Linked DNA regions of Homo sapiens: regions 1 and 2 are each linked to region 3. The links come from fine-mapping of genetic effects on gene expression. A gene starts in region 3. Each other region holds a variant in brackets. All regions are shown on one strand. Distances are between the middles of the regions.

Evidence for each region.
Region 1: its variant is fine-mapped to the expression of NUP50 in subcutaneous fat (GTEx, PIP above 0.99). The same link has a PIP of 0.9 or more in unexposed skin.
Region 2: its variant is fine-mapped to the expression of NUP50 in whole blood (INTERVAL, PIP above 0.99).

The regions. Positions count from the first base shown.
Region 1 is chr22:45,104,431-45,107,188 of GRCh38, forward strand. No RefSeq gene overlaps it. Among named protein-coding and RNA genes, the nearest start is that of NUP50-DT, 58 kb to the right of the region's middle. The variant A/T (reference allele first, on the strand shown) is at 1,265.
Region 2 is chr22:45,100,647-45,103,404 of GRCh38, forward strand. No RefSeq gene overlaps it. Among named protein-coding and RNA genes, the nearest start is that of NUP50-DT, 62 kb to the right of the region's middle. The variant G/A (reference allele first, on the strand shown) is at 1,476.
Region 3 is chr22:45,162,717-45,165,474 of GRCh38, forward strand. NUP50 (nucleoporin 50) reads left to right here and starts at 1,209. Exons shown (of 8, transcript NM_007172.4): 1 at 1,209-1,580. NUP50-DT (NUP50 divergent transcript) reads right to left here and starts at 1,065. Exons shown (of 3, transcript NR_038956.1): 1 at 861-1,065. RefSeq lists silencers at 721-770, 1,541-1,770, 1,801-1,980 and an enhancer at 1,138-1,660.

The DNA.
Region 1 (2,758 bases), 58 kb before region 3:
TCTGTGGCCCTGCCCATGTGGACACTGGCCTGAGCCACGTGACTTGCTTTAGCCAGAGGTCCAGCAGCGCGTTAAACACACACACGCACTCATGCATGCATGCACTCACACACACATGCACTCACGCACGCACATGCGCGCGCACACACACACACACACACATGCACACCACACACGCTTGATGAACACTCTGTCCTCTTTGAACCCAGAATTTGGGGTCAAGATGAGAGACCATGTGGAGAGGGACTTTAGAGAGGAAGGGAGTGCTCAAAGAATAATAAGAACGCGTCAAAAACCAAGAAGCTGCTTTGGAAAGGTGACCACTGGCCAAATCTAGGACAATCTGAACATAAAAATAAATTATAGTCACAAAAAATTATACTCCATTGAATATAACAGGAAACCAGGAATCCATACAGATATAAAAAATAAATGAATGCACTGAGAATTTGGTGAGGAATGGAGATATTTGCAGAATTTCAAAGTACCTACCCACAAAATGGCAGAGAACATGAAAAAAGAATGACTTTGGCCGGGCATGGTGGCTTACGCCTATAATTTCAGCACTTTGGGAGGCCGAGGTGGGTGGATCACTTGAGGTCAGGAGTTCGAGACCAGCCAGGCCAACATGGTAAAAAGCCCATCTCTAATAAAAATTATCCAGGTGTGGTGGCACACGCCTGTAATCCTAGCTACAGGGGAGGCTGAGCCACAAGAATCACTTGAACCTGGGGGGCAGAGGTTGCAGTGAGTCTAGATCGTGCCACTGTACTCTAGTCTAGGCGACAGAGCCAGACTCCGTCTCAAAAAAAAAAAAAAAAAAAAAAAAGGAATGACTCTATAAGAGAGATGCTGGCAGACACCACTGTTGTCAAGTGATCAAAGTAAACATCAAGTGACAAATCGAAACCAAGCCCCACCCTATGGGAGGCAGTGAGAGAAACAAGGTATCCATTTGCGACAGTGCTGCCAGACTGCATAGTTGCTTGAGTAGGAGGAAGAGCAAACAAAGGGAATTGAGGAGAGGAAAAGAAAACGAATCGTTCGAAAGTGTTATCCTCCCAGGAGAACTGGAGATGTGTGCACCAGAACACCCGAACAGGGATGGTCACGGGAGCGTTACTCATAAGAGCCCAAGAGTCCAAATGTCAGCATCCAGCAGCTCAGCAGTGGACAGACAAGTTGTGGTCTAGCCACACGTTGGAATGTTATTTGGCAATAAAAAGGAATGAGGTACTAATACACGCCACACCATGGATGAATC[A/T]TGAACACAAGATGCTAAGTGGAAGGAGCCAGTCACAGAAGACCATTTATACAAAATGTCCCAAATAGGCAAATCCGAAGAGATGAAAAGTAGATTTGTGTTTGCTTGGGGCTGGAGTGGAGGCAGGAGGAGGGGTGACTGTCAATGGGCGTGAAGTTTCTTTGGGGGCTGAGGAAAACGTTCAGATGGGGGTGATAACTATAGAACCCTGAATACACGAAAATGGAACTGTATCTGTAAAACTGTATACACTGGATTGTATGTATAAAAGGGTGAGTGTTATGGTATGTGAATTATCGCTCAATAAAGTTGTTATTTAAAATAGTAAAAACAAATTGTAGGTAGATTTAAAAGTTGAACTAGTAAAGTACTAGAAGGAAAACAAGCAGAACTTATCCTACGCGAAGGGTTGGACCAAGAGGATGGATGTGATCAGATGTTGTTCTGTATATTTTATTTGAGAGATAACATAGACGGTGAGGAAGCAAAAGGACTGGGAGGCGGGAGGCAGGACCGCTGCAGTAACCCGGGCAAGAAACAATGAGGGTCTGAAGCAAGGGGTAGCAGTGGGCCCTAAGAGGGAAGGAGAGAGACGAGAGGCATTTGGGAGCGAGAACTGAAGGGCCCTGGTGTTGAATGGGTGATCACAGGAGAAGAAAGACCTCCTTCCTTCCCATTCTTCCCATTCTTCCAACGCAGAGTAAGTGCCACTTCCTCGGAAGCCTCCCTGACTCCAAAGCTCGGTGGGGTTCCCCTCCAGGGTCCCCCCACCTCCATATCAGAGCACTGATCACAGGGACTGGCCATGGTCTCTACTGCCCTCTGGACAGCTGGGCAGCAGGACCTGGGTCCTGTTCACCATCAACCCCAGCACCCGTCAGCATTCAGCATGCTATGAATGTTCAATTAGTATTTGCTGAGCAAAAATGCGAATGGATGAACCAGCCTGTGATACTTGCCAGGTTTTGGCTTCTGAATTCATTCACTATGTTGGCCATTCTACCATGAATGTACTCCAGCTTACCCCTGAGACATGAAGGCAGCTGGGGTTAATGTGGAGCCTGCAGCCCATGCCTTCTGCTCCTGGGTCTGTGCTCCATGTGAGGTTAGAGGATGCCAAGGACTGAATGTGTGTGCCCCCCTCTAATTCCTCTGTTGAAGCCCTAATCCTCAATGTGATGGTATTAGGGGTGGGGTCTTTGGGAGATGATTAGGCCACGAGGGTGGAACCCTCATGAGTGGAATAGCGTCCTTAGAAAAAAGACTCCAGGGAGTTATCCAGCTCTTTCCACCCCATGAGGACACAGCCAGAAGACGGCCATCTGCAAACCAGGAAGGGAGCCCTCCCCAGATGCCAAATCTGCCAGCACCCTGCTCTTGGATTTCCCAGGCTTGAGAACTGCGAGAAATAAATGTCAGTTGTTGAAGCCACCCAGTCTGTGGTATTTTTGTCGTAACAGCCTGAGCTGATGGAGCCAGGGAGGCTGCATGGTC
Region 2 (2,758 bases), 62 kb before region 3:
GTATTTGGAGCCCAAGGAGGGCCTGTTACTGTGAAATGAAAGCACTTCCCTATCTGCCCCCCACCCCAGGGCCTTTGCCAGCTGCTCCACATTAGTTAAGCGCTTACTACCTACACTTTGGGGATTGAGGGTTTCTTTAGCTTTGAGACTGGGAGGCAGCTTAGCAGTGTAGACAGTTAGCTCATAATTCCTGCAGGGGTACAAGTGCCAAACCAAGTGCTATGATCCCTGGAGAGGCAGCCTCACCCACGAGGGCCTGGGGGCCTGAGTTCAGATCCTCACTCTGCATCTAACAAGCCGTATTGACCGGGGAGGGTCACTCAGCCTCTCCTGCCTCAGTTTCCTGATTCGTGTAACAGGGATAACATCAGCTGGCTTCCCTTGACACACCATCTATTAAACTGATTGATATGAATAAAGGATTTAGAATAGGGTCTTGAAGAAGGCGGTGCTGGACCCACGGACAGTGGCCAATGGGTATTGTTTGTCATCATCATCGTCACCATCACCATTGCTTTCGTCATAATCATCACTGTCACCATCATCAGCGTTCAGAGGAAAGGGGGTGTAGAGGGTCGTGTATCACCCAGAGGTGGATCTTGAGTTAAGCTTCGAAGCAGAGCAGGAGCCAGCTGTGCACGATGATGACATTAACAGCCGGCACTTTCCTCTGTGTTTTACACGCATGACAACGGGTTGACAGAAAAAGAGAGAGCTGGGCATCAGCCAAACAGAAAGTTGTGCACGGAAATACAGAAAAGGACTCGGCGATATTTATGAGCCCATGAAGTACAGAAGTAGTTAAGGATTGGAGTTCCAGTAAGAGCGCATCGCATGCCAGTCTTATCGTGCCTTGCTTTCTGGAATGATGAGACTCCCCTTCTCCCCTCCCCCCTCACCCACTCTGTCTCCCCCTGCCTCCCACCCTCCTACCTCCCCAAACTCTCCATGGACTGTTTAGGCCTTAACAACTCTGGAGAGCTATTAGGATCTATCAAGCGAACAATAATTTACTTCACGAAGTGATGTGTGTGATTTTCACCATTGACTCTAATCGCAACAGAAAATCATTTCAGTCGGCTGAGTGCATAATCTGTGTGTGCTGAACTTCTCTAAGCTTGGACTTACCTAAGGGAGGAAAATGGTCCCCTGGGACCCACTCAAGAGACGCGGAGTAAACAGCGTGCATTTCGTAAATGGGCTGGGGGTGTGCCAGAACCATCGCCGGGGACCCACCGCTGTCAGCCTAGAAGGCCATCGAACACTCAGAAACCATCTTCACAAATCCTTCTAGGGTGAGGTGGGGGGGTGAGGAGTCAGGGGTCGTGCACCTAACCATCAAAGACAGTGTGGATGTCCTGCTCATCTGCCACCGGGTGGCGCAAAGAGAAAAGGAGAGCAGACAGAGCAAGGAGGCACGTGTCCTTCCTCCTCCATCACATCTGCAGACTGAGCCCAAGCATCGGGAGCCATGT[G/A]GCCAGGCAGAAATGGGAAGTCATCTGTGCCCCTTGCTAGCGGACATGGTCCCAGGGACAGGTCCTGTCCTGTCCTGAGGCTGGAACTTCAGGAGTCCCAGGCCAATCATCACGCTACCAACTTGAGGAGCTTGAGATTTTCTAGTTTAGAAAGCAGGTACACAATTGTACATAGAGCACCAGCGTACCCAGGTATAAAGAAAGAAATATGCCAACCTGTTGGCCGTGGCTACCTTTCAGAGACTGGATTATGAGTTTTAGTATTTTCTAAAATTTTCTACAATGAATATGCAAGTAATAATAATAATATAAGATCTTACAAAGAAAAAAGTCTCAAGATTCCACTCTGACCATGTGTCCAAGTTCTAGCAACAAAATTAATGCCTAGGGAATGCCATGGCCAAGTCCCATCAGGACAGGGACTTACTTCACAACATCAAGAGATTTTAGTAAAAAGTGCAGGGGCCAGGGACAGTGGCTGTAATTCTGATGCTTTGAGAGGCCAAGGCAGGAGGATCGCTTGAGCCCAGGAGTTCAAGAACAGCCTGGGCAACATAGTGAGATCCCTGTCTCTACAAAAAAAAAAAATTGTTTTAGATTAGCTGGGAATGGTGGCATGCACCTGTAGTCTTAGCTACTCAGGAGGCTGAGGTGGGAAGATAGCTCGAGCCCAGGAGGTCGAGACTGCAGTGAGCTGAGATTGCACCACTGCACCCCAGCCTGAGCAACAGAGCAAGACTCTATCTCAAAAAAGATGGGGGTTGGGGAGCAACAGAGCAAGACTCTATCTCAAAAAAGATGCAGGAAAAAGAGCACAGAGTGGAGAAGCAGAAGAGATTCTTAAGTTCTTGTCCTATAGGTAAGAGCTAAAACAAGTCACTTGCTGACCTAGAGTCTCAATATTCATGTCCCTTGACTGCAGGCAAAAGCTGGCCTCACCTCCTATGATTAATTGACACTTGTTGCTTCTCCCTGCTCGGGTTCCTTCCCCTTTCCTTTGCTGCCTGCTGCTGTCCTGCTCTGTGTAATTCGGCGTGGATGTCCCTGCTTCCCCCAGGTCAGGCAGGCTCCTGAGCAGCCCCCAAAGCACAGATGTAGTGCCCGATGGGGTGGGGAGGGGATGGCAGCCTGGCAGAGCTGAACACTTGGGGAAAGGGAATTTCTCTCCTTTGGGGCACTCAAGCACCGAGGGTCATGGAAGCCGGGAGCTGCCATGTTGCACAGAGTAAGTCTGTCTGAGAATGAAGCCAGCTAATGAGAAAACAGAGCAAAGAGATGGAGAA
Region 3 (2,758 bases):
TCACTTTAGTCCGTGGACTCGCCCCGAATTCTTTCCTACGCGACATCCAAGAAGCCTCTCGCTGGGTCTGAGTGGAGACCTCTTTCTGGTAATAAACGGACTAGGGAGATTCGACTTTGAAGGTGAAAACAAAAACCACCATCCAGTTTATAAGAAGGCGCTCGAGGCCGGGAACGGTGGCTCAGGCCTGTAATCCCAGCACTTTGGGAGGCTGAGGTGGTGGGGCGGGGGGAGGGAATCACCTGAGGTCACGAGTTCGAGACCAGCCTGACCAATATGGTGAAAACCCGTCTCTACTAAAAATATAAACATTAGCCGGGCGTGGTGGCGCACGACTGTAATCCCAACTACTCGGGAGGCTGAGGCAGGAGAATCGCTTGAATCCGGGAGGCAGAGGTTGCAGTAGGCCAAGATCGTGCCACTTCACTCCAGCCTGGGCGAACAAGTTAAACTCTCCATCTCAAAAAAAAAAAAAAAAAAAGGGCGGCACTGGAAACAGCTGGGAGTGACAGGGCCAGGGATGAGGGATCGCAAGCTGCTGGTGAGAAAGGAGCTCAGAGGCTGCCTGGCCTACGGGCCAGGAGACCTCAGCGCAAAAAGCGCAGGACTCGTTCCCCTGCTCTACAGCTGAGTGCCCAGGACGGATCTCACTGGCTGAAAAAAACAGAAGAGAAGGCACCCAATGCAAAATCAAATGTCAGCGAACGAGGGGTCCTTTAACAGGCGGCCCACACGGCCCCTCCTGGCGCCGAGACCCAGCCCCTCCGGGCCACCCCGGCCAGGTACGACCAGCAGGGTCACCTGCGCGCGTCCCCCGAGACGGGGCCTCCTGATGTGAAGCGACCCCAGTGGCACCTCACACGATTCCCGAGGGTTGCGGGCGGCCTCTCCTCAGCCCTGCAGCTCCCACACGCGGACACCGCGGGCCTCGGCCATGTCCACTGACCGACCTTCCTCGCCGGAACTCCTCGCGCATCGCCGGCCCCTCAGCGGCGACTAGCGCGCGAACATCCTGGAAGACGCGTTGCCGGCCCCACGTGAGCCGACGCCCCAAAGCGCGGCTGCTGGCGCCGGCTACGAGATCAAGGTCGGCGCGTGCGCGCTTGCGCGAGACCGGCATTCTCAGCCCCGCGCCGGTTTCCAGGGAGCTGGGCGCATGCGCCGCGTAAGGGGCCCGGCCGGCGGAAGGAGGTGCTACTGCCGGAAGCGCCGGCGCGCTTGCGCAGTAGCTGAACGCGGGCGTTTCTTTCCTCCCTTTTTTTCGAATTGGTTTTGGGGGTAGATTCGAGTTACAAAATGGCCGCCCGGAGCGTGTTCGGCGCGGTTCCCCCAGCTGTCTCTGGCTGAACCGGCGCTCTCGCCTCCCTGCCGAACACAGCGTGAGGAGCCCCCCCAGGGATATGGTGTTTGAGTCTCTGGGCTTGCCGAGCACTAAGTCCTCTGAGTTCCGCAGCGCAGCACCGGAAGCGGCCGAGCGCGCTCAGCCCGGCGACCCCTGCGGGCTCCAGACCCCTGCGCCGCTGCGCCCCGGGTTTCGCCGCAACCAAGACCCAGCGAGTGCAGCGGCGGCCGCCGAGGAGGTGAGGAGCGGCGGCGGGCGCGGGAGGAGAAGAGGCTGAGGGCGGGAGCCTGGTGCTGAGAGCCCAGGGCCGGGAGGGCGGGAGCGGGCTCGGGCCTGGGAGGGGAGTGCGAGTGCAGGGCTGGGGACTGGACCCTGGGGAGGGAGGTGCGGGTTCAGCGCCGGGGGACGGGCCCCTGGGGAGGGGTGCGGGGCCGGGGGACCAGACCCTGGGGAGGGGCTTAAGGGGCTGGAGGACGGGACCCTGGGAAGTGGGGTACAGGGCTAGAGGTCGGGACTCTAGGGAGGGAGCCTGGGTCGGGCGCACGGGCCGGGCGGGGCGCGCGGTGGGGGAGCGACGGGTGGAGGGTGGGGTGGGATGACAGCGGCGACGCAGCCCCGGCTGTTTTTGAAGCGGGGCCCGGGCCCCACCGGGCTGCGGCGTCCGACTCGAGTGAGACTCTCCCCTGCGGCCCCGCCGGAGGTAGGGGGCTGGCAGGGCTGTCCTGGCGTGGTCTTCTCCGTTTCCTTCCTAGCGATTCCTCTCGAGCTTCCTCTCCCCCTGGCCGCCCCTCGTCTCTCTTCTCTTGGGCGCATTACCTCTCTGGCCTGTCTTACTGCGTTCCCGGGTTATTCATCACCCATTTGCTCGGTTCCATTAAGAACCAGCTTGGAGATTAGGTATTTCTGTCTCCTTACTTGGCCCCCTTGTTGTTTTCCTCCAACAAGGCACTTCACTATTAAGTGTAGCCAAATCTGTGTTTTCGTTTTAAGGTGATGTTGACAAGTTGAGCTTTCCAAGGGCAGAGCTACACCAGATGCCAGAGACCACATAACTATATCAGGCACAAATAATGTTTTTTTCCAGTTTACCTAGACTTTCAGTCTCCCACCACGTTGCTTCATACCTAGAAATCATGTCTAATTTGGTTTTTTACCCACAAACGCAAACGTTTTTTAAATTCCCTTTTATTGATTGTTTGATTGAGACTGGGTCTTGCTTTGTCACCAGGCCTCAGTGTAGTGGTAGCTCACTGTGTAGCCTGAAGCTCCTGGGCTCAAGTGATTCTCCTGCCTCAGCTTTCCAAGTAGCTGGGACCACAGGCGTGCGCCACTACGCTCGGCTAATTTTTTATTTCTATTCATCTAATCTATGTCCATCTTTATTTTCGTAGAGACCAAGTTGGTTTCCAACTCCTG